Linked DNA regions of Homo sapiens. The protein of the gene in region 1 interacts with the protein of each later gene in a pairwise test. Each region holds a gene or a part of one and is shown in the gene's direction. Other genes may lie near its edges. The genes, in order: AP1B1, TBC1D22B, CRYBB1 and POM121.

Evidence for each region.
Region 2: the proteins of AP1B1 (region 1) and TBC1D22B interact in binary tests that used the Homo sapiens proteins (3 or more experiments, as listed by UniProt).
Region 3: the proteins of AP1B1 (region 1) and CRYBB1 interact in binary tests that used the Homo sapiens proteins (3 or more experiments, as listed by UniProt).
Region 4: the proteins of AP1B1 (region 1) and POM121 interact in binary tests that used the Homo sapiens proteins (3 or more experiments, as listed by UniProt).

The regions. Positions count from the first base shown.
Region 1 is NC_000022.11:29,336,571-29,343,570, reverse strand, and holds part of AP1B1 (AP-1 complex subunit beta-1), read left to right. Parts: intron 1-1,187; coding exon 1,188-1,286; intron 1,287-1,810; coding exon 1,811-2,070; intron 2,071-2,713; coding exon 2,714-2,915; intron 2,916-3,796; coding exon 3,797-3,817; intron 3,818-4,437; coding exon 4,438-4,581; intron 4,582-7,000. UniProt on the Homo sapiens protein: Subunit of clathrin-associated adaptor protein complex 1 that plays a role in protein sorting in the late-Golgi/trans-Golgi network (TGN) and/or endosomes.
Region 2 is NC_000006.12:37,274,517-37,281,917, forward strand, and holds part of TBC1D22B (TBC1 domain family member 22B), read left to right. Parts: intron 1-4,787; coding exon 4,788-5,095; intron 5,096-7,401. UniProt on the Homo sapiens protein: May act as a GTPase-activating protein for Rab family protein(s).
Region 3 is NC_000022.11:26,614,769-26,622,251, reverse strand, and holds the start of CRYBB1 (beta-crystallin B1), read left to right. Parts: upstream 1-4,224; 5' UTR 4,225-4,275; intron 4,276-5,913; 5' UTR 5,914-5,932; coding exon 5,933-6,112; intron 6,113-7,483. UniProt on the Homo sapiens protein: Crystallins are the dominant structural components of the vertebrate eye lens.
Region 4 is NC_000007.14:72,941,857-72,948,962, forward strand, and holds the end of POM121 (nuclear envelope pore membrane protein POM 121), read left to right. Parts: coding exon 1-1,666; intron 1,667-3,729; coding exon 3,730-3,852; intron 3,853-4,280; coding exon 4,281-4,378; 3' UTR 4,379-6,443; downstream 6,444-7,106. UniProt on the Homo sapiens protein: Essential component of the nuclear pore complex (NPC). The repeat-containing domain may be involved in anchoring components of the pore complex to the pore membrane. When overexpressed in cells induces the formation of cytoplasmic annulate lamellae (AL).

The DNA.
Region 1 (7,000 bases):
CTTCCCATTGGCTGCCCAGGCAGGGCTAGAGTCTGGAAGCCAGATGCTGGGCTGCCTCCTGCCTTGGAAACAGCCAGCCTACTGCTCATCTGCTGCTGGCCCCCATGTAACCAAATTGCAGACTCTGGTTCACCCCAGAATTGGAGGACCACGTGCCCTCCATTCTGCCTGCCTCTGTCAGCCTTCCCTGCACAAGTGCCCTCCTGCTGGGCAGGTGCCAGAGATGCCGTCAGCACGGCTGCTGCTGGGCTTCCTGCACTGCCACTCCTGCCCTCCTGCTGCAGACCTGTCCCTGGCACAGCCTATGGGCTCCCACTGCCCCTGACTCCGGGAGCATCAGGCTGCCCCCTTGTCCTAGGACTAGCAAAAATGAGACCGTGACTAAGGAAGGATTATGTGCAGAGACTTGTTCTCGCATAGATGTTTCTTCAGTCAGCAAGTATTTCTTAAGTGCCTGCTATACACCAGGCACTAGATTGGGCAGTAATTAGTGACACGACAGTAAGCAAGACAGACATCACTCCAGCCCACAGGGGGCTCACTGTACAGGATAGCCAGCAACTGGTGGCGCTGTGACGGGGTGGAAGAGGCTGCAGAAGCATGGGGGGTCTGGAGGTGGGGTTGGCATGAGATCTGAAGGGTGAGGAGGTGTTGGCCAGGATGAGGGCAGCTTTGGGTATGTCCAGGCATGTGGCAGGGGCCGGTGGAGGGCCACCAGGAATAGTTCCAACCCTCTGGTAGAAGCACAGGTCCTTGACGGCAGGCTCTGTGGGCCCTGCTGCCCCAGTCCCCTGGGCCTCCATGGGACTGTCGCCACTTGTTGACAGATGGTCCTGATAAGAAGCACTCCAGCCACACATGTGAGCTTCTCATAGTTCTGTGAATTCTAGAGCTCCAACAGGTTTCTAAAACCCTAGGGCTGGGCAGCGGCCCCTGGCCTACTTGGGTTTGCCAAATAGTCCAGTATTCAGCTCCTTCCTGAGTGAGTGATGCCGAGGTCTGGCTGCTCAGCGGCACCAACACTTGTGGCAGCCCTTTGCCTGTGTGCCGTGACAGCCCCAAACCTAGAATAGCTATGCTTGGCTTCCAGGGACTTTGAACACCCTATTCCTCTTCAAGCCTTTTTGTTCTCCCTCTATCCCCATGTGAGGCCCACACTTCCTCCTCGTCACCGCTGTTCCCTGCAGGTCCAGCTGCAGCTGCTGACAGCCATTGTGAAACTCTTTCTAAAGAAGCCAACAGAGACCCAGGAGCTGGTGCAGCAGGTCCTCAGTTTGGCCACTCAGGTGGGTGCCCCAACCTCCCCGCTGTGCCCAGCATAGCCCTCACTCAAGCAGGGGAACTTTTGTCCCAGGAACTAGACCTGGAAGCCAGGCCCGCTCCTAAGACAGGTATCTTGTGGGTGGGACTGGCTTCCAGCCCCAGAGTTACCCAAGCTCCCTGCCTTCAGGGTGCTTAGAACACAACACAAAGTGCAGTGAGGTCAAGTAGTGAAGTTGAGACAAACTAGACAGAGGAGGAGGGCCCATGGAAACCTGAGGGTGTGTGTTGGGGGCAGGAAGGGCAGGCCACAGAGGGCGGTTGGGAGTAGAGACAGGCATGGCCAGGCTGGAGTAGAGTACCATGGGGAATGAGCCCGGGGCCAGGGCATGGCCCTGTAGGTGGTATAGGGGCAGGCTCATGGGAGCACTCAGGACTGCTGTCCCCATTGGCCACCCCTGTGCCGCACCTGGCTCATGGCTGCAGGAAGGTCTCCTCCCTTCTCACCTGGCTACTCTGAGTTTCATGGGCTTCTCCTCACCCCCACAAGGACTCAGATAACCCAGACCTGCGGGACCGTGGCTACATCTACTGGCGCCTGCTGTCCACGGACCCGGTGGCAGCCAAGGAGGTGGTGTTGGCTGAGAAGCCACTCATCTCTGAAGAGACGGACCTCATCGAGCCCACACTGTTAGACGAGCTTATCTGCTACATCGGCACGCTGGCTTCCGTCTACCATAAGCCTCCCAGTGCCTTTGTGGAGGGGGGCCGGGGCGTCGTGCACAAGAGCCTGCCACCTCGCACGGCCTCGTGAGTGAGACTGGCCAGTCGGCCTGCGCCTTCACACTCTGCTTCCCCAGTTTAGCAGCACAGGCACTCAGGCCTGGCGTGTTGTCCCCCAGCAAGACCTGAGTCTGAGGAAAACTGACAACCTTTTATCAGCTATTTATTGTACACAAGGTATTTGCTAGATGACCTCATTCCAGCCTAACGACAGTGCTGAGAGCAAATGTCCCCATTCTTCAGGTGGGAACAAGAGACAAGGAGAGCTTGAGGGACTGGTCCAGGATCTCACAGCTAGCAGAGCTGGGACTCAGACCAGTTCTGTCTCATTCCAGATCCCTGTCTGCGCCTCCTCCTCTGTTGTTCCCAGGTGGTTGGTGTGGCCTGGTGGCACCGTCCTAGGGCACTGGCATCCAGTTTTCTTCTTAGCATGGGCTGAGGGCTAGAAGCAGGCGGCCCTCTCCCTTCACTCATCCTCACGGAGGACCTGAAAGATGGACCTGCTGTGGGAATGGGAATGGGGAAGAAGTGGGGCCGTGTGGACAGCCCTGTCGGGGACAGTGAGGAGACTCAGTGCCTGTCCTGGGGGACAGCTCTGCCTGGAGGCTGGGGTCTCTTTGACCTTCCTGAGACATCCTGATGCCTCCACCCTACTTCTGTGTCCCGGCAGGAGTGAGAGCGCAGAGAGCCCTGAGACAGCCCCTACTGGAGCACCTCCTGGGGAGCAGCCAGATGTCATCCCCGCCCAGGGCGACCTGCTGGGTGACCTCCTCAACCTGGACCTCGGCCCCCCAGTGAGCGGCCCACCCCTGGCCACCTCCTCGGTGCAGATGGGAGCTGTGGACCTTCTTGGCGGTGGCCTTGACAGCCTGGTATGTTGTGGGCCCCCTCTGGATGATGTTGATAATGATCCTCAGAGGAGCAGTCACTGAATGCCCCTCCATGCCAGGCACCAGCTGAGTGCCTCAGGTACATTATATAGAGTCCTTACCATTTACCCTTGGAGGTGATTGTGTAGCTCCCTACTTATGATGAGAAAACCAAGGTTTAGAGAGGCCAGGCAGCCTTCCCTCCGAGGTCGCACAGCCCCTGAGAGGCAGACAGGATTCCACTCCCTTGTTGAACCTTCGAGTCCCAGGAGACCCTGGGCAGGGAGGCGCATCCTAGCCCTTGCCCTGATCCTGGCATCACAGTCACCTTTGCCCTGTAAGGCTAGGGTGTTCCTGGCTTTGAGGAATCAGACTTGTGTCCACTTACCCTTATGCAGCGCCAGCTGGGAATAGCAGCCCATCCAGGCCTATTTGAGAGGGCATGGGAGGCCGGGGAGAGAGGGGAGTGGGAAGACAGTAGGGAGGGGAGTGGTGAGACTGACTTGGGTATCTCCCTGGGGCTTCCTCAGGCAACTGGCAGGACCATGTGTGGGGGCGCCTAAACCTCTTCATTTGGCTGTGCTCGGCTCAGGTCCGCACGGTGGCAGCACGGGGGCAGGACACTGGTGATCAGTGCTGCTAGGGTGAGGCAGGAAGGGCTGTGGTGCAGGACAGGTGTTGGGGTAAAGGTGTGGGGTAGTGCCTTTCATAGAGACAGGGTCTGGGCCTCTCGCCAGACCTCACACCACACTCCTCTCGGATGGAGCTACCGTTGACTAATCTCCCTCTTTCCCTTCTCTCTCTTGTTTCTCTGTCTTCCTTCCTGGCTTTTTCTCTCTGCATGTGGCTGCCTGTTCTCTTCACCTGCCTGCTTCTGCTTGGAGATGGGGGATGAGCCTGAAGGGGTATGGTTCAACCCTTGCGTCACCAAGCCTTCGTCCTTGCTCCTCCCGAAAGCGCTGGCCCAGCATCCCAAGGGGCGGGGGCGGGTGATGTCACAGCAGCCTCCACCTGCTGAGCCCCTGCCTTGGTCCAGCATCCTGGCAGCCTCTGTCTTGACCACCTGGCATCCGGCTGCCACTGGGCCCCATAGCCATGGATTCTTGCCCAGTCCTCACCACCCCATGACACGTCGCCTTGTCATCGCGGGGATTGCCAGCCCTCAGTCCCACAACCCTTCTCTGATGTCCTGGAGGGAGAGCACCCATCTGCGTAGCATGTCTCCACCCAGCCGTGTGTCTTGGGACCTCCTTTTATCCATAGGCTGAGCGTCAATTTGGGAGTGTCCCCAGCCCTTTCCCAGAGGTTACTCCTAAGGCTCAAGGCTTGCAGGGCACGGGAGGGCTCAGCCTCTCTTCTCCACCCACCTCTCTCTGTCTTGTTTCTGTAATTTAGAGTTGATATGGAGGCTGTCCTGCCCCCTGCCCCCAGTGTCTTCTAAAGAGCCAGGTGGCTCTACTCATTCCCAGACCCTGATGTCTTTGCCTCTTGACGCCCACCTCTGACTCTTTCCCTCCCTTTCCAGATTGGGGGCACCAACTTCGTGGCACCTCCAACAGCAGCAGTACCAGCCAATCTTGGAGCACCCATCGGCAGTGGCCTGAGTGACCTCTTTGACCTGACCAGTGGCGTGGGCACCCTGTCAGGATCATATGTGGCCCCCAAAGCAGTAAGTCACTTGTCTTCTGTCTTGGCGGGAGCAGAGAGAAGTTATGGAGACTGGCATGTGGGCTCCTTTAAATGGCCTCGGCTGTGGAATTGGCTCAGGCCAGCAGTGATGAGGGAAGCTGGGGGCCACAGGGGCACCGAGGAAGAGGAGCTAAGTCAAGCTTGGTGGGTACCTAGGAAGGCTTTCCAGAGGAGTCGCAGGACCTCAGTAGCTGAACAAAAGCGGATAGGGGCTCCAGACCAAGGGAACAGTCTGTGGTAAGGCCTGGAGGGAAGGGAGACCACGGCCTTTGTGAGGGAATCAGCAGAGGCCTGTCAGGTGGGAGCAGTAGTTCTCAGTGCCATCAGACTCAGCACCCCTTAGTCATCATAGACATTTTACATTGTCACCATTCCTCTCCTTAAATGCAATTGGTGGGCTGTGTAACCTACCTACACATAGCATTCCAAAAATACTCAGATGCTTTCACTGCATGGAGGAGACATAAAAGGGAGAGAATACAAGTGTATGTATCAATGTTATAAACGTCTGGGCACGCCTGCCCGCTCACCCCAGAAGACATGAAGTTGCCAGGTGTTTGCTGCAGGGCAAAGTCACTGTGACTGTGGCAACCACAGTCTGGGTGTTTGTAGCCTGGACCCCGTGAATGGTTTGGCCAGTGGTGCCATTTGTTTCTGAAGTGGTCACTGACTCCCAGTAAGGTTTGGAGTAAGATAAAGAACAGGCTTCCCTCGATTTTCCTGAGAATTGTGTTCCTGGAAGTCTCAGGATATGTTGAAACCATGCAGAAAATACTGGAAGGATGCAGGACAGTTGCTTGTTGTGGGGTGGTTGTCCCCATGGTAGGATGTCCAGCATCCCTGACTCCAGCCCACTACATGTTATGCCACCTGAAGATGCCCACAGATGCCCACTATGCCACCTAGGGCACACCCCCAAGACTCCTGGCTAGACTAGGGATCAGTGAAGGAGGAAGCTGGCAAGGCTGGCGGGCCAGGCTGAGCGTTTCTTCTTGATCCTGGCACAGCCGGAGCCATTGGAAAGTTTTAAGCAAAGAGATGAACCAGTCTGATTTGCACTTGAGAAAGATGGCTGCGTCTGCAGGGAAGGGGTGGGGCAGAAGCACCGGCCCCGGGGGATTCCGTGGCAGGGAGGAGGAGTGCTGGGGCAGCTGGACCACGGGGGCTCTTGTGGGTGGAAACAGCGGCCAGACTTGAGAGCTCCCTGGGAGGGAGGAGCCGGGGCTGAGGGAAGGAGAGTTGAGTTTGGGATGTGAGGACATGCGGGCCTGGCACTGAGGAGAGCTCAGTGTGGGCCATGTTGTCAGTGTCAAGGAAGCTGCCAGAGGGGACCAACCAGGCCTGATCCCCTCATCACACTCAGATCAGAAGTTGTGTTTGCCAGAGCTCCCCTCTCTCTTCTGAGGTCCCCACCCCAAAGCAGGATACAGTTGGCGGTCAGGGGCAGTGACAGCTCTGTCATGACTAGGGAGCCATGAGCCAGCACCTCCCCACCCCCTGAGCTGGCTTTCCCCACCATATGCCAGCTGCACCTGCAGTGGTGGTGACTGGAGCCCCTGGCAGGGTCTGGGCACTGAGAGGCCCACAGCAGACAGCAACTCGGACACTAGTAGCCGCACACTTCCTTGTAGGGACAGCACAGCATTCCACAGCCACCGCCAGCACGTCCTCCTCCCAGCAGCCCTTTGTGGCTCTTCCTCCTATTTCGTGGTTGAGAAATCCTAGTGCTTTTGCCTAAGGTCACATAGCTGGTGACAGAGTCTGGAAGTGAAAGCAAGTGACACTAAAGCCTCTGCTCCAGACCCCTATATGATGGTCCCCACAGAGCGTGAGAACCACCTGTGCACCTGCCTTCATGCGTGGGGTGTCAGGGCCAGCAGGGCCACGGGAACGTAGAATCGCGGCATAACGTACAGCATGTGCAGTTGACTTACTACCTGGATTAGCTGCACCAAGGCATGAGGCCAACTCGTACTCACCAGAAGCCCAATATCACAGGCATACAAAGCAGGACTAAGGGACAGAGAACAGCAAAGACTCCTGTAACCCTGTGGGTGCCAGCCCTTGCCAGGCACTGCAGAGCTGCCAGGAAAAATAAGCCTGGAGCTGGCCTTTGGCAAGCTGGCACTAGGCTTGTGTGTTCATCTTTTTTTTTTTTTTTTTTTGAGACAGAGTTTTGCTCTTGTCACACAGGCTGGAGTGCAATGGTGCGATCTCAGCTCACTGCAACCTGTGTCTCCGGGGTTCAAGCGATTCTTCTGCCTCAGCCTCCCGAAGTAGCTGGGATTACAGGCACCTGCCACCATGCCTAGCTAATTATTTGTATTTTTAGTAAAGACAGGATTTCACTATGTTGGCCAGGCTAGTCTTGAACTCGTGACCTCAGATGATCCACCTGC
Region 2 (7,401 bases), on another chromosome or scaffold:
TTTCTTTGCCGCTTACCATTTCCATGACCTTGGGCACATTACTGAAACTTTCCAAGCCTTAGTTTCTTCATTCATAAAATAGAGATAGTAAGACTCATTTCACAGATTTGTGAGGATTGCATGAGGTATCTGCAAAGGTGCTTTCTAAACTATAATTTATCGTACAGTTGTAAGGAGGTATGGTGAAGGTGTTCGTCAGAGGCCAGTTTGGTTGTGACTTTGATAGAGTTGTGTTTAAATAATCTTGGTTAGGGTGGGGCATGGTGGCTCACGCCTGTAATCCCAACGCTTTGAGAGGCCAAGGTGGGCAGATCACCTGAGGTTAGGAGTTCAAGACCATCTTGGCCAACATTGGTGAAACCCTGTCTCTACTAAAAATACAAAAATTAGCTGGGCGTAGTGGCATGCGCCTGTAATCCCAGCTACTCAAGATGCTGAGGCAAGAGAATCGCTTGAACCCGGAGGCGGAGATTGCAGTGAGCCAAGATTGCACCACTGCACTTCAGCCTGGAAGACAGAGCGAGAATCCATCTTAATAATAATAATAATAAATAATCTTGGTTAGACTTCAAGCCACACTGTGGCATTCTTTTACATTGAGTTAAGTGTAAACTACCTGGGACTGTGTTTAAATGGAGTATATAAACCGAAGGCATCCCCAGCTGGAGTTACCTGGATTAACTTTTTGCTGCAACTACTGGGGTCAACAGAAAGGGGTGACATTTCTCTTACAAGGAGCCCATGCCTAGATGTGGCTTCTTTCCTGTCTACTCAGAATAGGCTATGTGTGTCAGACCTAAGTCTTTTCCTACAAGTTGAGATTTTTTTTTTTCCTACAGGGTGTGAGAGTTGGGCTTTTGGCTGTGTATAGTTGGGGAGAATTATAGCTGTGGTGGTATGTGGCTTGGTTTACTTGGCGACTTCTCTTCCTAGGCTGCAGATCCTTCTAGGCCCTGACCTTCTTCTTTTTAGCTGCTTTTTTCAAGGTAAAGTAAGTAGTTAGTAGCACATGCTGGCCCAGGAGTCAGGTAGACCTGGATTTGAGCCCAGACCTCACTGCCTGCTCATGATCTCAGTAGGCTTCAGTTCCCTCATCTGTAAATGGGACTAACAAAAATACCCACCTCATAGGATTATTAATGGGCATTAGATAAGAAAATGGGTATATATTAAAATTTAGCATAGGGTCTGGTGAGTATTCAATATTTATGAATATTATGAATATGTATGAATATGGCTAGTGAGTAGCCAATATTTATATGTATTTATTTGTGAATTTATGTATCTCCTCTGGAGAGAGCATAACTAGTAAACATGGAAAAGCTTCAAAGCCTTAAATTTACCCATCATTGTTTATTGCTCCTGGTCTGTGGATTCTCTGCCTTCTCTCAGTGGTAACCCAAAGTACCTTTCACTTCTTGCTTTGCTGTTTCATTCTTTTCTTTTTTTCTTTTTTTTTTTTTTTGGAGATGGAGTCTTGCTCTATCACCCAGGCTGGAGTGCAGTGGCACAATTATGGCTCACTGTAACCTCTGCCTTCCGGGTTCAAGTGATTCTCCTGCCTCAGCCTCCTGAGTAGCTGGGATTACAGGTGTGCACCACCACACCTGGCTAATTTTTGTATTTTTAGTAGAGATGAGGTTTCACTATGTTGGTCAGGCTGGTCTTGAACTCCTGACCTCAGGTGATCTGCCTGTCTCAGCCTCCCAAAGTTCTGGGATTACAGGCATGAGCTACCATGCCCAGCCTTCTCTTTCATTCTTGTGGGTGGTTCTCACCAACCTTGTTTTGTCCTCAGACTCTTCCCCTTTTCTAGGTGAAACCAACCCCTTCCTCCACGAAAGCCTCTTTCCTCAGGACAGAGCTGACTTTTAAATTGGTTGGTTGAATTTGGGGTTTTGTGGGCTAGGTATCCTTAAAATCATTTCTAGCAGCCTCAAAATGGTCTGCCTTGAATCTCATGTCTTTATGTCATGGGGAATGACAGCCTTTTCTCCCTTCTTTCTTCTTCATTGTGTTGGAAAGTGTCCTCCCAGTTTCTATTGGCAAGTCTTCATTTGAGTAAATTCCAATCTTAATCTACTTCAAATATATATTGAATCATTATCTGCTTCAAAAATATAATGAAAACTGGTCAGGCATGGTGGCTCATACTTGTAATCCCAGCACTTTGGGAGGCCGAGGAGGGCAGATCACCTGAGGTCAAGAATTTGAGACCAGCCTGATTAGCTGGGCATGGTGGTGCGTGCCTGTAGTCCCAGCTACTCAGGAGGCTGAGGCAAGAGAATCGCCTGAACCGAGGAGGTGGAGGTTGCAGTGAGCCTAGATCGCACCACTGCACTCCAGCCTGGGTGACAGAGCAAGGCTCCTTTTCAAAACAAACAAAAATATATATATATATAAAACGAAAACCTTCAAATGCATAAAAAGCGTATGAAGAAAAATACAACACACACCCTGGTACCCACCCCTCAGCTGGTTAACGGCCTTCATTTTTCTCAGAAGTCAGCACCTGTTAGAACCTGACAGGCAGCCTGGCCCGTCTCTCCCTGTAGTGTGTTCATCCGGTCCTGGTGTGCGTGTGTGTCACCCTGTGTTAGGCCACCAGCTTCAAGTCAGCTCTTTGACCTGAGTTAAAATTCAACTTCTTGATTTGATGATTGATTAAAGAATTCTCAGAACATCCAGTATTTATGCAATCTTAATGTACACGTGGCCTCTAAGGAGGAAAAACAGTAATAACCACATACTCCTGGGTGTTATATTAGATGACAGATCTTTCTTACACAGCTGCATGTTTGTTCTCGACAGCGAATCCCCTGAGGTGGTACTGCAGGTGGTAGATCAGGTCCCCTTTTACAAAGGAGAAGCAGCCATGGTGGATGAGTCCAGAACGTGCAGCCTCAGTTTTATTTTCTTTGATTTGGGTACTTGTCTCCTATAGTTCTTTTTTTTTTTTTTTTTGAGACGGAGTGTCACTCACACTGTCATCCAGGCTGGAGTCAGTGGTGTGATCTTGGCTCACTGCAACTTCCACCTCCCAGGTTTAAGCAATTCTCCTCCCTCAGCCTCCCGAGTAGCTGGGATTATAGGCATGCGCCACCATGCCTGGCTAATTTTTGTATTTTTTTAGTAGAGATGGGGTTTCACCATGTTGGCCAGGCTGATCTCAAACTCCTGACCTCAAGTGATCCATCTGCCTCCACCTCCCAAAGTGCTGGGATTACGGGCGTGAGCCACTGTGCCTGGCCACTCAAATAGTCTTGTTTTAAGAACAAATATTATCATTTCTATAAATAGAAAACAACATTTGTTATAAATAAGAAGAACTTCTGGGCGTGGTGGCTCATGCCTGTAATCCCAGCAATTTGGGAGGCTCAGGTGAGAGGATCACTTGAGGCCAGGAGTTTGAGACTAGCGAGAGCAACATAATGAGACCCTTATCTCTCAAAAAAAAAAAAGCTAGACATGGTGGTGTGCGCCTATAGTCCCAGCTACTCAGGAAGCTGAGGTGGAAGGATTGCTTGAGCCTAGGAGTTCAAGACTGCAGTAAGCCAAGATTTCTCTACTGCACTCCATCACTCCACCCTGGGTGACAGAGCAAGGCCCTGACTCTTAAAAGAAAAGAACCATATAAATACTCAGTGAAAAACCAAACAATCTTATTAAATCCAGAGGCAGATCTTGTTGCTAGCAAATATATTGATTCTGAGGCTGCCGTCACTTTGGCACCTAGTTAGAAAATGGTCTTAAAGACAGAGTAGCACCAAACTTCAACTTTCTTCTCAAGGCCAGCAGAAGAACTTTTAACAGAATAAAAAATGGAACAACTTTTTTATTTTGGGACTTAATGTTTAATGCTACATATGTGGACTACCTAAAATTATCTTGTTTTCTGCCAGTAGTTTATGTGCTGCTCTAAGTGATAGCAGATCAACTGTCAAATCTCTGTGGATTAACATAGTAAAGGTTTATTTCCTGCTCATGCTACATGTCTAAAATGGGGGTGGGGTAAGGGCAGAGGGCAGGCTCCTCGACATAGTTACTGCTGCTCCACATAGCCACTCAGTTACCTAGGCTGAAGGAGGTTCTACCATCTTGCCAGTGCATCATGATAGAAGAAAAGCTATGGATCAGGCATGGTGGCTCACACCTGTAACCCCAACGATTTGGGAGGCCGAGGTGGGAGGATCACTTGAACCCAGGAGTTCAAGACCAGCCTGGGCAACATAGTGAAACCTTGTGTCTACAAAAAATAATAATAAAATTAGCCAGGCATCGTGGTGTACACCTGTAGTCCCAGCTACTCAAGAGGCTGTGGTGGGAGGATCACTTGAGCCCAGGAGGTCAAGGCTGCAGAGAGCCATGATCATACCACTGCACTCCAGCCTAGGTGACAGAAACTCTGTCTCAAAAAAAAAAAAGAGAGAGGTTATACAGAACTGACACCTATTCTCTACTTTGCCTGGAAGTAATCGCCTCATTTCTCCTCAGTCCATTGGCCGGTATTGGTCATATGGCCTCACCTAAGTGTATGGGGGCCAGGAAGTATACAAGAGCACATGGGATATTTGGTGACCATTGCTGTCTCTGCTACATCTGTCTCTGCGATCTCAGGCTGGTCTGGATGTATCTAGATGAAGAATGGATGTGGGCAATTTTTGTTTGAAGAAGCTAATGATTATGTATGTGGTAGTTTGTAATTTATTAATATTACAATAATAAGCAAATGTAGGTGGTCAGATGTGTCAGGCCATTCCTTGGTAATCGTGTCTCCTTTCTTGAAGTTTCATTAAAGAACGATCAAAAGTCAACACAGTTCCTCTGAAGAATAAGAAGGCCTCCAGTTTTCATGAGTTTGCACGGAATACCAGTGATGCTTGGGACATTGGCGATGATGAGGAAGAGGACTTTTCCTCACCTTCTTTCCAAACTCTGAACTCAAAAGTTGCTTTGGCAACTGCAGCCCAAGTTCTAGAAAACCACAGCAAGCTGAGAGTAAAACCAGAACGGTCCCAGTCAACGACATCGGACGTCCCTGCCAACTACAAGGTCATAAAGTCCAGCAGTGATGCCCAGCTGTCCAGAAACTCTAGTAAGTCCTTCCTGCTCCCTTCATAGCCTCAGCCTTCTCAGCAGCGTGCATTTTAAATAAAAGCGATTTTTCTTTGGGGCCTCACTCAGGTAGATATTCAACTGGGCGGTAAATAAACTCAAGCCTGAGATGTGACATCATTAAGCCTGAGTGGTCACAAGCTATACTTGCCCCTCCCACAGTGGTGGCTGCCCAGTCTGGTGACCTGGGCCTTCACTCTCTGACACCCAGGTGTTGTTTGCCATTCTCCTCTTCTCTTCTTCCTTTCCCTGTGGTGGAGTCCACAACTTCTCTGGTTTGATTGCTTCACATTGCTTTAGGCCTGGTCAGGTTTAGAAATAGTAACTGATGTATTTAAAGCTGTTAGTGGCTGAATTTCACAATTGTTTGGCACTGTGGTTTGACTTTCTCAGCCCTAGGGAACAGCCACTAGCATAAGGTTGTCTTTTCCTGTTCCTGAGGGAGGGAGCAAATGTGCCTAAAGGCCCCAGGTCCCAGCTTCCTGACCATCAGGCAGGTCCCATCAGGTTGGGTGGGGTAGAAGTAGAGGCCTCTCTGTTTCTTTTCGGGAAACTGGCCACAGTAATGGTTGATGTGTTGGTGGTTTTATTAGCTTTTGGGGACTCTCAGTGTATTCCTTTAAATATTCATGGTTATGTTTAATGTTGCCCTAATGGGTTTTATAAAGTATGTTGGGAGCTGGAGAGGGAAGCTTTGTCATCGCAGTGAGAGTTAAAGCAGTGAGCTGGTACAGGATGAAAAGGAAGTAGAAGAACATCAGAGCCCTGGAGTGTACCCTGGCTCATGTTCTGAGGGAACTTTTTCGTGGCTGTAAGGTCTTTGCAATCATTGCACAGTTATTTTCCATCACTGATTTGGGCTCTAGCATGAACCTTCAGTGCCATGCACAGATAGGCATTCAGTGTTACTGGACCAGGTGGCCACAGCTGCAGGCCGTGGAAGGTGTCTACACACTGTGATGGAGGGTCTCCAGAGGTTTCCAGTGTGAGGAAGGCCCCTACCGTGATCCATGATGAGCTGCCCTGTGCAGCCAGGACCTCCCCCGCCCAGCCCAGAGCATTCTCCCTGAGGAGGTTTTCTCCTGCCGGCATCTGTCTGTAAATAGGTAATATGAGATTTACCTCTGTCTCAGCTTTGCAGTGTGTGTCTGCATTTTCTAGTCCCCTTGTTACACTAGGCGTCCCAGCCAACTGCCTCATGGAAGTTGTTTTTGTAAACCTTCTAGTAGTGCTGGTTGGTTGATAGTCACTGCATCTGTCTGTAAATAGGTAATATGAAATTTACCTCTGTCTCAGCTTTGCAGTGTGTGTCTGCATTTTCTAGTCCCCTCGTTACACTAGGCATCCCAGCCAACTGCCTCGTGGAAGTTGTTTTTGTAAACCTTCTAGTAGTGCTGGTTGGTTGATAGTCACTGTTTAATTTTTGTTGTGACTACTACTTTTTAAGGCCCAGCCGTGTAAAGAATATGAAACAGTCATGTAAGCACAGCTAGAATTAAAAACTGAGTTTTGCTTGTGGTAATACAAGAGTTTTAGAGTCAGGCTTACCTAAGGTGGTTTTTCACTTCTCACTTGCAAGTTATTTAACCTCCCTGAGCTGCAGTTTCTTGTCTGTAAAATAGTTATACATTCCTACCATATGTTCTAAGGATCAAATGAGAGATCATATGTAAAAGTGACCTATATGCCTTATACATATGAAGCACTCAATATACGTGAGTCCTCTACTGCTTATTCCCCCTACCCACTATCTAGTGTAGAAATGTCAAGAACAAGACAGAGTTCAGTTTGAGTCTTTGTTTGTTATTTCAGTCATATCTTGGCAGAATTAAGAACTGGTTGATTTTGGTGGGAAATGTAGGAGCACAAAGGAACCGCAGCCACCAAAGGCAGGATTGCCTTAGGCCAGAGCTTCTCACCATTGTGCAGGGCACACTGGTGGGCCAAGAACCGGGTACAGGATGTGCGGGGATATTGATCCTTTTAGTCCTTGGAGCAGCTGGGGGTTCTGGGGCTTGTGGAGAGCAACCACCTCCATTTATTGCAGCCTTGTGCTTTGTGGTGTCATCTGCAGTGTCATCATTCCTTATGTGCTCTGTGGTGTGGAATGGGAAGGAAAACACTGCCTTAGACTAAACTAAACTCACTATTTGGCACCAAGAAAAGTTCCAAGTTAGGGTAGAAAGAAAACATTTGATTTTCCTTTAGAGTCACCAAAAAAGTTCTCAAAAGTTGCTGCAGCATCTGGAGTCTCTGTTAGCACCTTTAGAGTCACCAAAAAAGTTC
Region 3 (7,483 bases), 2.7 Mb from region 1:
AAGAGAGCCCTTCCAAAGACAGCACCTAGCTCAAAGAGGTAGCTCTGATGGTGGAAATTTAGGCAATAGGGCTACAGGAATAATTTGTTTTTAAATGAGGGAAGCAGGTGCTGGTCTTGATGGTTGGGGCTCATCCTTGGTTAGGATGAGGATGGCATTCAGGATGACACAGTGACATCCCTAGGACTGGGGACCTGGGTTCCTCGCCTCCCAGAATGCTCACTCAGAACTCTGATCCCACCCCTCCTCCAAACCTGGGACTTACCGAGATAGGCCCAGGGAACATGTCAGATCTGAGACCAGCCGAGGTCGGGCTCTTATAGGCAGGGAGGGAAGAGGGGCCCCTGGGAGACAAAGCCCCGACTCAGCAACTGGGCCACAGAAACAAAAGCCAGCCCTGGCTGAAGAGCCAATGGCAAGCCGTCAGCAGCTCTGGCTTTAGCAGGGAGGGAAAGGACCAGATCACCACCCCCAGGGATCAGCCACGAAGAAGGAGAGAGGTGGAATATTGGCCCTCATCAGCCCCACAAGGTTCCTGACTAGAGCAGGAGAATGAGCACTAGATGAGGAGTCCAGAAGCATCCTTCCTAGCTATGTGAGCTCCAGCGAGTCATTTCCCCTCAATTTCTGCCTATAAAATGGGGCAGAAACAAACCATATCACAGAGTTGTTGTGAGGTTACATAACATGCCTGGTACAGAGTAAACATTCAGGAAATGCCTATTCCTTTCCTTCTCTCTTTCCCCTTTCTCTTCCAGTTGAAGCAATCCAGATAGGCTTGCCGTTAGAGGAGGCATTTGAACTAGACTCTGAAGGATGAGGAAGATATGTACAGAGTGAGATGGAAGGAGAGGCATTCTAAGAAAAAGTTCAGAGGTGGGAACTTGGGGCACATGTACAAGAAAGAGCTGGTAGCCCAATTGGCCTGGAGCTCAGGGGACCTGAAGGGAAGTGAGGCAGGAGAAGAGGGCTAGGCCAGGGCCTGCTGGGTCCACAAAGCCTGAAGATGAATCCGGATGGCACTGTGGGCAGCATAGAGGAGCTGTTAGTTGCAAACATGCTTTGCAAACTGTGGCACACTTGCCAAATATCCAGGACTTGTACAATTTGCTGTGTGCCTCTTGTCCCGAAACCCTGCCCTCTGAATTGGCGTATGAGGGACCTAAGAGGTCCCTCATACATACATACTTGTGTGTAAAATGGGTGTAACAAGCATAGGAAAACAGCATGACTGGAAACCAGATCATCTGAGATGAAATCCAGCCCTGCTTCTTTCTTACCATCCGTGTGACCTGGAGGACACCTGAGTCCTGCTCATGACCTGTAAAGTGGCCACACCAGTTTCCTTTTAAGAGGGTGAAATGCAGCTCTATCAAACGCATGACTTTAGGCTGGGCGCAATGGCTCACGCCTGTAATCTCAGCACTTTGGGAGGCCGAGGTGGGTGGATCACCTGAGGTCAGGAGTTCAAGACCAGGCTGGCCAACATGGTGAAACCCCGTCTCTACTAAAAACACAAAAATTAGCCGGGAGTAGCGCGGGCGCCTGTAATCCCAGCTACTAGGGAGGCTGAGGCAGGAGAATTGCTTGAACCTGGAGGCAGGGGTTTCAGTGAGCCAAGATCATGCCATTTCTCTTGACCCTGGGTGACAGAGCAAGACCCCGTCTCAAAAAAAAAAAAAAAAAAAAAAAAAAGGAATGCATGACTTTGATGAAGGGTTGGCATGAAAATGAAAGGTTAACAATGCACCCTCTACAGCCAGACTGCCTGGGTTTGCATCCCACTGGTGCTGGCTGGGTAACTTTTAAGCATGTTACTTACGCACTCTGAGCCTCAGTTTACTTGTGTGTAAAATGGGTGTAACAAGGTAAGTTGGGATTAGTCTAAGAAACAGGGGGATTGTGAGGATAAATGTGAATAGCACATGAACAGCAGCTGGAATTGCTCCTGCAACATAAAAAATATTGTGGTATTTCCATCATCTTCATCATCACCATTGCTAATAAGAAAGATGATTATTATTAATTGTTGATCAAAAAGCAGGGGTGCATAGTTTTTAAGAGCCTGGGTTCATGAGTAAAGAAGATGTGAGTTCCAATTTTATCTTACATTTCCATTTTTATGAGAAAGTGGCTGAGAGAGAGGAAGGAAAGGGAGTTGCTTCAGTTTCCTTATCCGTAATTGGGGTTAATCCCAGAGACTTCATCCTTATACTGAGGAGTACAGGACAATGCAAAAAAAAAAAAAGAAAAGAAAAAAAGAAAAGAAAATAAATTGGCTCCATAAGACAGGGCAAAAAAGAAAAAGATATAATGAAGGATACAATAATAATAATAAATGCTCAGAGTGGAGCCACCAACATGGTGGGCCATCCCCCTTCTCTGCCCCCACCCTCTGGCAGACAGCCCATTCCTGGGGCTTTAGGGGGGGCACGGAACTGCCCCAGATGACCTGGCTTTGAAGCCTAGACTGGTGGGTGGGCCCTCACCACAGGCGTCTTGGCCCCAGTTCCAGTGGCTACCCCATCTTGCAGTTCCTGCCCACACCCCACCCACCAAGTCTTGGCCCAGGATGAAAGGCCAAGGAGAGGCTAGGAAGCGAGGGGGTGCTGGGTGGTGGAGGGACAGAGGCAAAGCTGGCTCCAGGCCAGGGAGAGTTCAAGACAGAGCTGGGCTCCACGGGGAGCCTAGAACCCCGAAAAAGAAGAGACAGGAGCCTATCCAGATGCCCCCGCAATATACCCTGCCTGGGACTGGGGAGCCGACTGCAGGTGACCTAGCTGAGCAGCTCCCCAGGCTCCTTCTGACCCCAGCTGTACTGTGAGTTCCCGCCATGTGACTATGTTGAAGTCATTTGTTCCACCTGGGCCTCGGTTTCTCCATTTGTGAAATGGGAGGATTGGGCCCTGTGATTTCTGGCGTCTGTTCCTCCGTCCTGAGGCTTGATCACCCCAACTTGACCTCTGTCTCTCCGTCTCTCGCTCCTTCACTGTCCATGTCCCCTGTGCCTCTCTGTGTCTCTGTCTCCACCTCTCTCTTTGTCTGTTACTTCTATCTGCCTCCTTACTTCTCTCTCCTTGCCTTGGTTTCCCTATCTCCTCCGTACCCTACCTTCTGTTCCGATCCATTGGAACCACCATTGAGTCACCAGTTATTGACTGAGAACCCATGATGTGCCAAGCTCTACCTAGCCAGGCCCAGCTAGGTGCTGGGGCCAGTGGTGAACAAGATGTGGTGGGCATCTGGGGCTTGCCAGGGCAGGAGGCTCTGGGACAGGCAGTCATATTTCTGGCCACCAGCACTGTCCTCCAGGTCAGATAACGTGGCCTGGGTAGAGGCGGGGAACTGGGGTGGCGAGAGGGATCACTGTCGATAGGTCAGGAAAGGATGGGGCCCAATGTGGGGAAAAGAAAAAGACCCAGGTCTCCGATATCCAACCCAGCTGAGCACAGTGCGACTCTCCCATTCCCACCCCAACCTACAAAGAGGAAGTCAGGCCAGGGGGCCTCAGGCCAAGGTCAAGGCTGGACAGCAGGAGAAGAAAGCACACAGGCCCAGAGCTGGCTGGCCTGGGCTGGCTCTGACCTCTCTGTGCCTTCACTTTCCTCTTCTGTGAAATGGGCATAATGAAAGTACCAAATAAGGCAGATTGTCCCGGGGACTGACCGAGATAACACGGGTTCGGCACACAGTAAGCACTCCGTAAAAAAGGCTGTCCATATCAAACCCACATCTGCCTTTACAAAACGCTTCTGTGCTCATTGTCACCTTCTTTTCTATATGGCATCCAACAGGGACACGTGCCCACCTTATAATTGCAGACACAGAGGCCCCCCTAGGGGTAGAGACCTACCAAAAGCCACACAGCGCGCAGTGGCTGAGTCAGGATTCAAACTCTGGTCTCCTGCCTCCCAGGGTCTCCCCTTTTCCCTGCCCCATGTTGGCAGCCAGCAGGGACCCTTTTGGGGGCCCATCCCTGGCTGGGGTTGTTGAGAAAGGAGTCAGGGTAGGGTTGGAAGGTGAAGCTGCTGTGGCCAGGGTTTCTGCTGTGTGTGCTGGTCTCACAAAGGAAAGTGCTGCTGTCTGCAGTGATCCAGGCGAGGTCAGGGCCCCAGTCCCCCACTCCCTGCCCAGGCCTGCTGAGCCAGCTTCCCCTTTGTGCCACAGACTATAGGGCCTGATGTCTGCCAGACTATAAAATGGGGGGTCGGACTCTAGTCACCCATAGCACCTGCCCGCCTGCCTGTCCTCCAGCAGGAAGTAGCAAGTCCCCAGGTAAGAGGGAACCCACAGCCCAGCTGAGAGCTGAAGGGGAGGGGAAGAGAAAAGGGAGACAGAGAGAGGGAGGCAGAGATAGCAGTGCCATGAGAGTCAGAGAGCAGGGCCATGGAGATAAAGACGGAAGTGGAGAGAGGAAGAAAGGGAGGGAGAGGGAGAGGGGAGAGAGTGAGAAAAGACAGAAATAGAGAGAGAAGTAAATATAATTAAAAAGGACAGATAGAGAGATAAGCAAAGATACAATGAGGGAGAGATAGTGGGGGAGAGAGGAACAGAGAGGGAGAGAAACAGACAGGCAGATAGGCAGAAAGAGGGAGAGAAGTAAGAAACAGATAGAGAGGCAAAGACAGGGAAGAGAGGAGGAACAGAGGGAGAGGGTGAAGCAGGGAGAGAGAGAGAATGAGAATATCTCCAGGAAGGCATGAGTCCAGCTGCCAGCCCTGGGGGAGTGTTTAAAGCCACAGATGTGGTCCAGATGTCTGGCCTCACCCCTGGTGAACAGGGGGCACCCCAGAATATGCACAGCCTTCCTGGAGGAGGCTGGGGGAGGGATGTGCTTATCCCAACTAGCTCCGCCTTACAGAATGTGTTCGGGAATCAGCTTGACCAGAGGGTCTTAATCTGTGCTAGCAGGGGGTCCTCAAATCCCTTAACATTGTCTCCAAAGTTAAAGAGAGCATTATTTTTGTCCGGGGACAAAGTTGAGGTATTCATCAAACATTCAAAGGAGTCCACGACCCCAAAGCAACAAGGAACCACTGGAATTGACCAAAGCCCTCTCCACCCAAAGCCTACCCAGCCCCAGTCCTCATTTTCAGAACCCTCCACATGCAGTAAATACATCCTCTTGGGTCCTCCCATAAGCCTCAGTCCCCGGCCTGTATTTGCACCCATACACCAACCCCTCAGAGGAAGCAGACGGGGAAAGGAGCTGGGAGCATGCATTCATTCATTCTCTGAACAAATGTTAATTGGGCATCTCCTATGTGCCAGGTGCAGAGCAAGTGTTAGGGATGGACGGTGAATAAATCAGATTAAGCAAATGGCAGAATACTTTAAAAGCCCAGTTGCTGGCTCCATTTCCTTGAGTTGAAATCAGAGCCCTACCACTTAGTAGCTGTTTGGGCCTGAGCTGGGCCCCTTCCTTCTCCAGCCCCCTGCTGCTCAGAGGGGATCATGATAGCAGCTACTCCATCGGGTGAGGTTCATGGTCAGATGGGTTAATTAATGTATGTCACAGTGCCTGGCACACCTTAAGTACTCCCAAATGGGACTTCTTGTTATTAGTCTAGGGAGGCAAATTGGAGTTGCACAAGCAAATCAGTGTGATAAGCAGTGTGGAAAATTGCAGGGGGCTAAGGAAGGACCTAGCGGGGTAATGGAGGGTGGAACAGCTAGTGGAGGGAACCGCATGGTCAAAAGCCTGGAGGAAGGATATATGTGGGATGAGTGGCCCCCAGACGGGAAGGTCTTGGCTGGGAAGTAGGGATGAAAGAAAAACTTCCAGGCTTAACCGTTTCAGAAGGAGATAGAGAGGAAACGAGCTCCAAGGAGGCTGAAAGCACAGGATGTGGGGCTATGAGGGCAGGAGGCAGTTTGGGGGTGTCATCCCTGAAGGCCAGAGTTTCTTTACAGACTTTTGCAGGCGGGAACCATGTCTCAGGCTGCAAAGGCCTCGGCCTCGGCCACAGTGGCGGTGAACCCAGGGCCTGACACCAAGGGGAAGGGGGCCCCACCTGCAGGAACATCCCCTAGTCCCGGCACTACCCTGGCCCCAACAACCGTGCCTATTACCAGCGCCAAGGCGGCGGAACTGCCTCCTGGGAACTACAGGGTAAGGACCTGGGGGTGCAGTGGCTGGGTGCCATGCCTTCTTTCCTTCCTTCCCTCCTCCTCCTTCTTCTCCTCCTCCTCTTCCTCTTTCACCTCTTACTCCTCCGCACCTCTTTCTCCTCCTTTTTCTTGGCTTATTTTCTCTCCTTTCTATTTACTCTCCCTTTTCTTCTTCTCCACCTCCCCAGACTCTTATCCTCTGTCCCTATTCTCTTTTTCCCTCACCTTGGCCTCCTCCTCCCTCCTCCTTCTGGGACACAAGTGTGGCCCAGCCAATCTGGGAGCCCATAAAATAGCCAGGGGTTCTGACACACTTGGAGAAAGTGGGGCCGGGCGCAGTGGCTCATGCCTGTAATCCCAGCACTTTGGGAGGCCGAGGCAGGTGGATCACCTGAGGTCAGGAGTTCGAGACCAGCCTGGCCAACATGGTGAAACCCTGTCTCTACTAAAAATACAAAAATTAGCCAGGCGTAGTGGTGGGCGCCTGTAATCCCAGCTACTTGGGAGGCTGAGGCAGGAGAATCACTTGAACCCAGGAGGCGGAGGTTGCAGTGAGCTGAGATCATGCCACTGCACTCCAGCCTGGGCAACAGAGGGAGACTCCATCAAAAAAAAAAAGAAAAGAATAGAAAGAAAAAGGGGACCTATAGTTGAGTTGTGCAATAACAACAACCAAACCATACCGCTTCACAGCTGAAGGGACACCTGGCAATCAGGCTACACCTGCACACGCACATGCTTAGAGTTTATCGAAAGCAAGAAAAAAAAAGAAGAAAAGGAAGTGGGCTGGCTTAGCAGCAGGGAACCAGCTGTCCTTGGAGGCTCACTGGGGCAGCAGGATGGCCTCAGACCCTCAAAATTGCTCGAGGTGGTCTGGGCTGAAAGGCATCCTGTGGAGCAAGGTGTCCAGTCCCCTGGGATTTGGTTTGGTGTGGTTTCAACCTCAGGTCACAGAAGTAGGCCATTTTGCAACCCCTAGTTCATGACACGCTCTCATGTGGTCAGTGCGTGGCAGGTTTTTATTTATGTACCTATTTAATCATTAGTTTTATTTAATTTCTAATAATGCAATATGCACCTACAAACCCACCACCCATATAAAAGCCAGGACTTGGTTAAAAACTTTCTACCTAACTCTAAGGTGTCTCCCTTGAGTCCATCATTTTCCTCCCCAACTCCAGGAAATACTGTCCTATCCTCAACCTGTGTCTGTAATCTGCTTGCTTGCTTTTGTATACAATTTTATGCATTATTCCTTTAAAAATGTATACACACATACACATGTATATTTATTTACTTGTTTTATTTATTCATTTATTTTGAGACCGAATTATGAGACGGGTTTTGCCATATTATCCAGGCTGGTCTCGAA
Region 4 (7,106 bases), on another chromosome or scaffold:
ACTGAGGCCCTCTCACCTCCAAAGACACCCAGCCTCCTACCCCCGCTGGGTTTATCACAGTCAGGGCCGCCAGGGCTGCTCCCCAGCCCCTCCTTTGACTCCAAACCCCCGACCACTTTGCTGGGGCTGATCCCTGCTCCATCCATGGTACCAGCCACTGACACCAAGGCACCTCCAACCCTTCAGGCAGAGACGGCTACCAAACCCCAAGCCACATCTGCCCCGTCCCCCGCCCCCAAGCAAAGCTTCCTGTTTGGAACACAGAACACCTCACCTTCCAGCCCTGCCGCCCCTGCTGCATCTTCAGCACCTCCCATGTTCAAGCCCATTTTCACGGCTCCACCCAAGAGTGAGAAGGAAGGCCCCACACCGCCTGGCCCTTCAGTCACAGCCACAGCGCCCTCCAGCTCCTCCCTCCCCACGACCACCAGCACCACAGCCCCGACCTTCCAGCCTGTCTTTAGCAGCATGGGGCCACCTGCATCTGTGCCCTTGCCTGCTCCCTTCTTCAAGCAGACAACTACTCCCGCCACTGCTCCCACCACAACTGCCCCGCTCTTCACTGGCCTGGCCAGCGCCACCTCTGCTGTGGCTCCCATCACCTCTGCCAGTCCATCCACAGACTCTGCTTCGAAGCCTGCGTTTGGCTTTGGCATAAACAGTGTGAGCAGCAGCAGTGTGAGTACCACGACCAGCACCGCCACTGCCGCCTCACAGCCTTTCCTCTTCGGGGCGCCCCAGGCCTCTGCTGCCAGCTTCACCCCGGCCATGGGCTCCATATTCCAGTTTGGCAAACCTCCTGCCTTGCCCACAACCACCACAGTCACCACCTTCAGCCAGTCCCTGCACACTGCCGTGCCAACGGCCACCAGCAGCAGCGCTGCCGACTTTAGTGGTTTTGGCAGCACCCTCGCCACCTCCGCCCCGGCCACCAGCAGCCAGCCCACTCTGACGTTCAGTAACACGAGCACCCCCACGTTCAACATTCCCTTTGGCTCAAGCGCCAAGTCCCCGCTCCCATCATATCCGGGAGCCAACCCCCAGCCCGCATTTGGGGCCGCTGAGGGGCAGCCACCGGGGGCCGCCAAGCCGGCCCTTGCCCCCAGCTTTGGCAGCTCTTTCACTTTTGGAAACTCTGCAGCCCCGGCTGCTGCACCCACACCTGCACCTCCGTCCATGATCAAGGTCGTGCCTGCGTACGTGCCTACGCCCATCCATCCTATCTTTGGCGGTGCCACGCACTCGGCGTTTGGGTTGAAAGCCACGGCTTCGGCCTTCGGCGCTCCCGCCAGCTCACAGCCCGCCTTTGGCGGCTCCACTGCTGTCTTCTTCGGTGCAGCCACCAGCTCCGGCTTTGGAGCCACCACCCAGACCGCCAGCAGCGGGAGCAGCAGCTCGGTGTTTGGCAGCACAACACCATCACCCTTCACGTTTGGGGGTTCGGCAGCCCCCGCTGGCAGTGGGAGCTTTGGGATCAATGTGGCCACCCCAGGCTCCAGCACCACCACCGGAGCTTTCAGCTTTGGAGCAGGACAGAGTGGGAGCACAGCCACCTCCACCCCCTTCGCAGGGGGCTTAGGTCAGAACGCCCTGGGCACCACCGGCCAGAGCACACCGTTTGCCTTCAACGTGAGCAGCACAACTGAGAGCAAACCTGTGTTTGGAGGTAAGGAGGGGCGTGGACTTGGGCTACCGGGCCGGACACTGAAAAGCTGTGCCTGCGAAGCCTGTGGTCTCGGGGAGCTTATGCTGTGGCAGTGAAGAGACAGGCACTGAATATAGAACTCAGTGAGATGCCAGGGAACGATACATGTTTTGCTAACGTAGTAATGACTGGAGGAGCCATTGTGGATTTAACTGGTCAAAGGCCTTCTGAGTAGTTAACAATTGTAAGCTGAAGGTTGGGCGCAGTGGCTCACGCTTGTAATCCCAATATTTTGGGAGGCCAAGGAGGGTGCATCACTTGAGGCCAGGAGTTCAAGACTAGCCTGGACAACTTGGCGAAACCCTGTCTCTACTAAAAATACCAAAAAATTAGCCGGGCGTGGTGGTACCCACCTGTAATCCCAGCTACTCAGGAGGCTGAGGCACAAGAATGGTTTGAACCCAGGAGTTGGAGGTTGCAGTGAGCCAAGATCATGCCACTGTACTCCGGCCTGGGTGACAGAGCAAGACTCTGTCTCAAAAAACAAACCGTAAGCTGAATATGGGGGTGGGCACAGCACAAGTGGACATGCCTTTCAGGCCCAGGATGGCGCATGCAAAGGCCCAGAGGCAGAAACATGTTTGGTATGTTGAAGAGCAGAACAAAGACAAGCATGGCAGGAGGGCAGGAGCTAAAGCAGTGGTGTGGAAGGAGGCCAAGAGGCAAGGATTGTTTGTGGCCAGGGTTGGGTGTTTGGGTCTTAAGTGTTCAGGAAAACCATTGCAGAATCAGGCAGAAGGATGCAGTGATGGTTCCTCCCATGTGGAAGATGAATGTAGATCCCATGGCTTCTGTTTGCTTCGTGAAGTAGAGAAAATCTGGGAGAGAGAGGGTCAGGATAAAGTGTATAAAAAAAGGGGTCTTTTGAAATAGTCATTTTGGACAGTGGGGGAAAGGAACATCATATTAAAAAGTGTGATCAGTTTCCAGGCAGTTTGTGGGCTGGAAAATTGTGATTGTGAAGTTAAAGTGAGGCCAGTTAGCATGGCATGTGTTTCCCAGCGACACTGTGGGTGTAGACCTAAGGTCAGCGGACAGCTGGTGCCACCCGGCCATGGAGACCCCAGCAAGCACAGCAGGAGGGGCAGCGGGTCAGTGCCCCGATGCAGCTCAGGGGGTGCAGGAGTGGAGAGCGGGTGAAGTCAGCTGCAGGAGGGGTGGTGCCTACAGGAGATTCGGGAGCCGGAGCAGTTGTGGTGACAGTGTGGCTGCAGGAGTGGTGGCAGGGGTCGGGGAGAGGAGGTCATGGGGGTGGCAGGGTTGAGGGGCTGAGAGGACCATCAGTCAGCCTCACAGGGCGAAGTCACCGTGAGTGGTGATGGGAAGGAAGCCAGTGAGCCAAGGGTCCTCTGTGAATCAGGGAGTGACCTGGCAGTTGACAGGTGACATGAGGACATGGCAGATTAAAGTGATCTGAACTTGAGTTACGGTATTTAGGGAAGGAAGAGAAACAGTGTGGAAGCAGCGTGGGAGCACAGGGAGCTTCCTCTTGTCCGGGCCGGAGGCCAAGCCCTGAGAGCAGCCATCCCTGCAGAGGGGCTGCCAGAGAGGGCCTCGGGCAGGCAGCCAGAGCCAGTCAGGGCAAGGCCGGGGAAGGGAGGGGACCACGGGGCATCACAAAAGACGCGGGACGGACAAACCAGGCTTCAGAGGGGAGGGGACGGTGGCTGGGGGAAAAGGCCTGAACAGAGGAGGTAGCCAACCCAGGTACGCTAGGAGGCGGGGGCCCCAGAGTACTCCCCTCTGCAGCGATGGTCAGGAGGCCCACGAGGTGGCTGCGGGGCAGGGGGGCTTTTTCTCTGCCCTGGCGTGGCCATTAGCGGGTGGGAGAAGCAGGCTGAGCTGGGGCACCAGGCATGAAGACTCGGTTGTCTGGCTCAGCTGCTGATGGAGGAGTGCCCCAGAAGCAGAAGTGGGGCTGAGGGTCCCGTGGGAAGTGCCCTGCGGAGCACAGGCTCCTGCCCGGCTCCTCGCTTGCCTCTGCCCTCTGCTCACTGGCCAGCTCTCTGTTCTCTTCATTCCAGGCACCGCCACCCCCACCTTTGGTCTGAACACCCCTGCGCCTGGAGTGGGCACATCAGGCAGCAGCCTCTCCTTTGGGGCATCCTCAGCACCCGCCCAAGGCTTTGTTGGTGTTGCACCTTTCGGTAAGCAGCAAGCCACCCTGTGGCCCTGCTCATCTGTCTGAGGAGGGGTTGGGCGGGGTGGCAGGTTCCTGGTCCTCTGAGGCCCGGTGAAGATCAGGTTCAGCACAGGAAAGACATTTCGGGTTAGGAGTCCAGCACAACCCAGGGATGGGAGTTGGATGGCAGAGATCAGAGAGGAGCTGTCCGGGGTGGAAGTTTGCCTCCCATGGGAAGCCAGGTAAAAATGGATTCTTGGGCCTCGCTCTGAGACTCTCTGGGAGTTTGCATTTCAGGAGGCTTCTCCCGTACAGTGTTTCTGATGCAGCGGGGAAAGCCCTATTGAGGCACCCTGTGTTTTATTACTGGCCTGGCCTTCCAGAGATTTGGGCACCCAGAGTCAGAGTCTCAGGTAGCAGCTGCCCTGATGAGGTCTTGTTGAATCTTTCCAGGATCGGCGGCCCTTTCATTTTCCATTGGTGCGGGATCCAAGACCCCAGGGGCTCGACAGCGACTGCAGGCCCGAAGGCAGCACACCCGCAAAAAGTAGCCTTTGTCCCCTGTCCCTGTTCCCCCCACCCCTTCCCTAAATCTGGACCTTGGCACCTGCTAGGAAGAGCCTTGGACCCTTCCAGTTGCGTAAAGCAAACCTACCCCGGATCTCTGGCTTCAGCCGCCAGGGGGCAGTGGCAGCCCTGGGGCCCTTTCCCTTCTGGAGGAAGCACAAGCCTCAGGGAAGGGGAAGCAGGATGCGGAGGGCCAAAGCCCGGGACCTCTACTTGAACAGTTCTACTGGGGAGGCTGGAGAACTAAGGAAACACCTGTACATAGTGTCCGCTGCCCTGACTCCCGCTTAGCACACCCTTAGGCAGGCGCCCCTTCCACCTTTCCCCGAGACCGTCGTCGCTGGAGGGGGCAGGGTCCAGCCCGCCTGGATCGGTGGTGTGCACCTGATGGGATTTGGGAAATGGGCTATCCGTAAAGCTTTATCTTGCTTGGCTTAGCTGTGAGAAGTGGTTCTCTTCCTCTGGTCCCTTCTGGGGACTCTGTTTCCCCATTTCTTGCTGCTGTGTCCCTCACCAGTTCCTTGCAGGATTCCTTCGTTTTTAAATGCCCTTGAATCTAGCTTTGCCTTGGAGACCCCAGTGGGTGCTGCTCCTGCCGTTTTCTTCCTGCCAAGCCTGAATCAATGTTTCATCTCCAACCCTCTGCCAGTTTGGCCCCTCAGAGCTTGGTGGCTCAAGACTGTTAGCCTGGCAGAGCCAGGGGTGAAGGGAGAAGCTCTTGGAGCAGGCAGGATGCCCACCGCTGCTTCAGCTGCCTCCTCGCCCAGCTACCCTTTGGCCCCATTGGGCCCTCGTCTGCCTCTCCAGGATTGTATGTTTCAAGCCTTGTCCTGTGTTCCTTTGTCTGATGCTCTGTGTATTGCTCTTTGAATCGAGTTTGGAGGAAGAGTTGAGTTGTATGAGTGGCGGCATGTTGGTAGTGCCGGACTTCCTGTTTCAAGTTTTCTGGGGCCTCGCTAATTGAATGTGGAAAGTAGCACCACTTGACGGCTACAAGTGCCGACTCCTGAATTTTCCCATGGTGTTCTGACTTCAAGGGCTGGCAGCCAGGGAGAATGGGCCCAGGGGAAGCAAAGACCTCTTCCCTCTGCCGTTTCTGTCCCACTTAACTGACCTCACTGGAGGCTACATCACCCAAAGTAGATGTTAGAAAACCTAAATTAATGAACCATATTTTTAAAATCCTATTTTTCCCAAACAGGGCCCTCTGCAGCCCATCCTTTCCTTCCGTCCTTCTGAAACCACATACCCCAGGCCCAAGCGCCTTGCTGCCACGCCCAACCTCTTTGGGAGAAGTATGAATGCGTGTGTCTAAATTAAAAGAAAAAAATATTTAAACGTTTTTTAACAAAAATTTATTTTTGTATTTAAGCTAAATTGCCTTTTAAATTCCTTCAAGCTTGGTTCATTGAGGTGGTTAAGTATAAATGCTATTAACTAGGAATTAGCTGTATAGTTAAGTTATGCCTGTGCAAAGAAGAGGCTCAAATGCTGTCCCCGGCAGCTTTCCTGGGGGACTAGAGCTCCTTCTGGCCATGTTATATGAAATGTAATTCTTATTTTATAAATAATGTGATGTAAATGTAACTGGTGCCCCCTCCCCGATGTGACTGAGGGTGAGTGAGTGGTGGCGGGGCTGCTCCTTCCCACCCCTCAGAACAGCTCTGATCCTCGTTAATACCTGGCTGCGTGTGCAGCTGAGGAGGGAGTGAACCTCAAGCCTAAATACCTGTTAGGATTGGAGGGTCTGGGTGGGCCTGGGCCTAGCAATCAAGCTTCTACCTGTACCTTATGTAAGGTAGACCCTCCTAGTGTCAGTACCTGAGCTAGTTTACCTCAGTTCCGCAGGCAGGACAGCCGGTCCGGGAACCCTGAGTGAGAATGAGTGTGGATGTGTACAGTACACGCACTGGACGGCAGCGGGAGGCTGGGACTTTCCATTACAAATAGAGACTTCATTCCTGTTGAGTCTAGTTGGAATTTTTAGTATGAATGTGAGATTTTTCTCCTGCTTGTGACATTAAGAATAAAAAACTGTGATCTATCGTAGAGTACGTTCTGCATTTTATTTCTGCAGGCAACACTTTTGCTCACCAGCAAGAACACAGCCCGAGGAAGGGACCCAATAACCTTTCAAAACGCAAACTGCTGCCTGCGGTGAGGGCCCAGGGTCTTCCACGGAGAGGACAGGCATCTTCCTTTCCCACCAGGAAGGAGTGAGCCCGGAGCCTCTGCTATGTGCAAGGCGGTGTGCAAGCACCGGCTGCAGCTTTTTGCTCTCTTCTTTCTCTTTGGGGCTGGGCTGGGTGTGCGTTCTGGTGCTGATGCTTTGGCCTGTGAGGCTGAGCTAGAGAAATGTAGATGTTAGATGTGCCAGTACCATCCTGCGCCTCCCAAGCATGCCCCCACTCACTCACGTCGGCATCTCGACCCGTTCAATTACAGCAACGAAGAAGCCACCGCTAAGCGTGGTCTTGGGGGAAGCCCGGAGGCAGTGCTCGGCACCCGGGAACGTGCTCAGGCCTCGGTGGGGCCGGGCAGGCAGGGCGGGAGCTAGCCTGCAAGAGAAACAGCCCCAATGCTGGGTAAGAGAGCAGTTCACCCCATCCCCCCCTCCACGACCCTGGCGCACGCCCTGTACCTGAAGGCGCCCGGGTTCTGCTGCAGCGCATCTTGTACCATGTCTTCATTCTCCTCCTGGCAGAGGGAGCA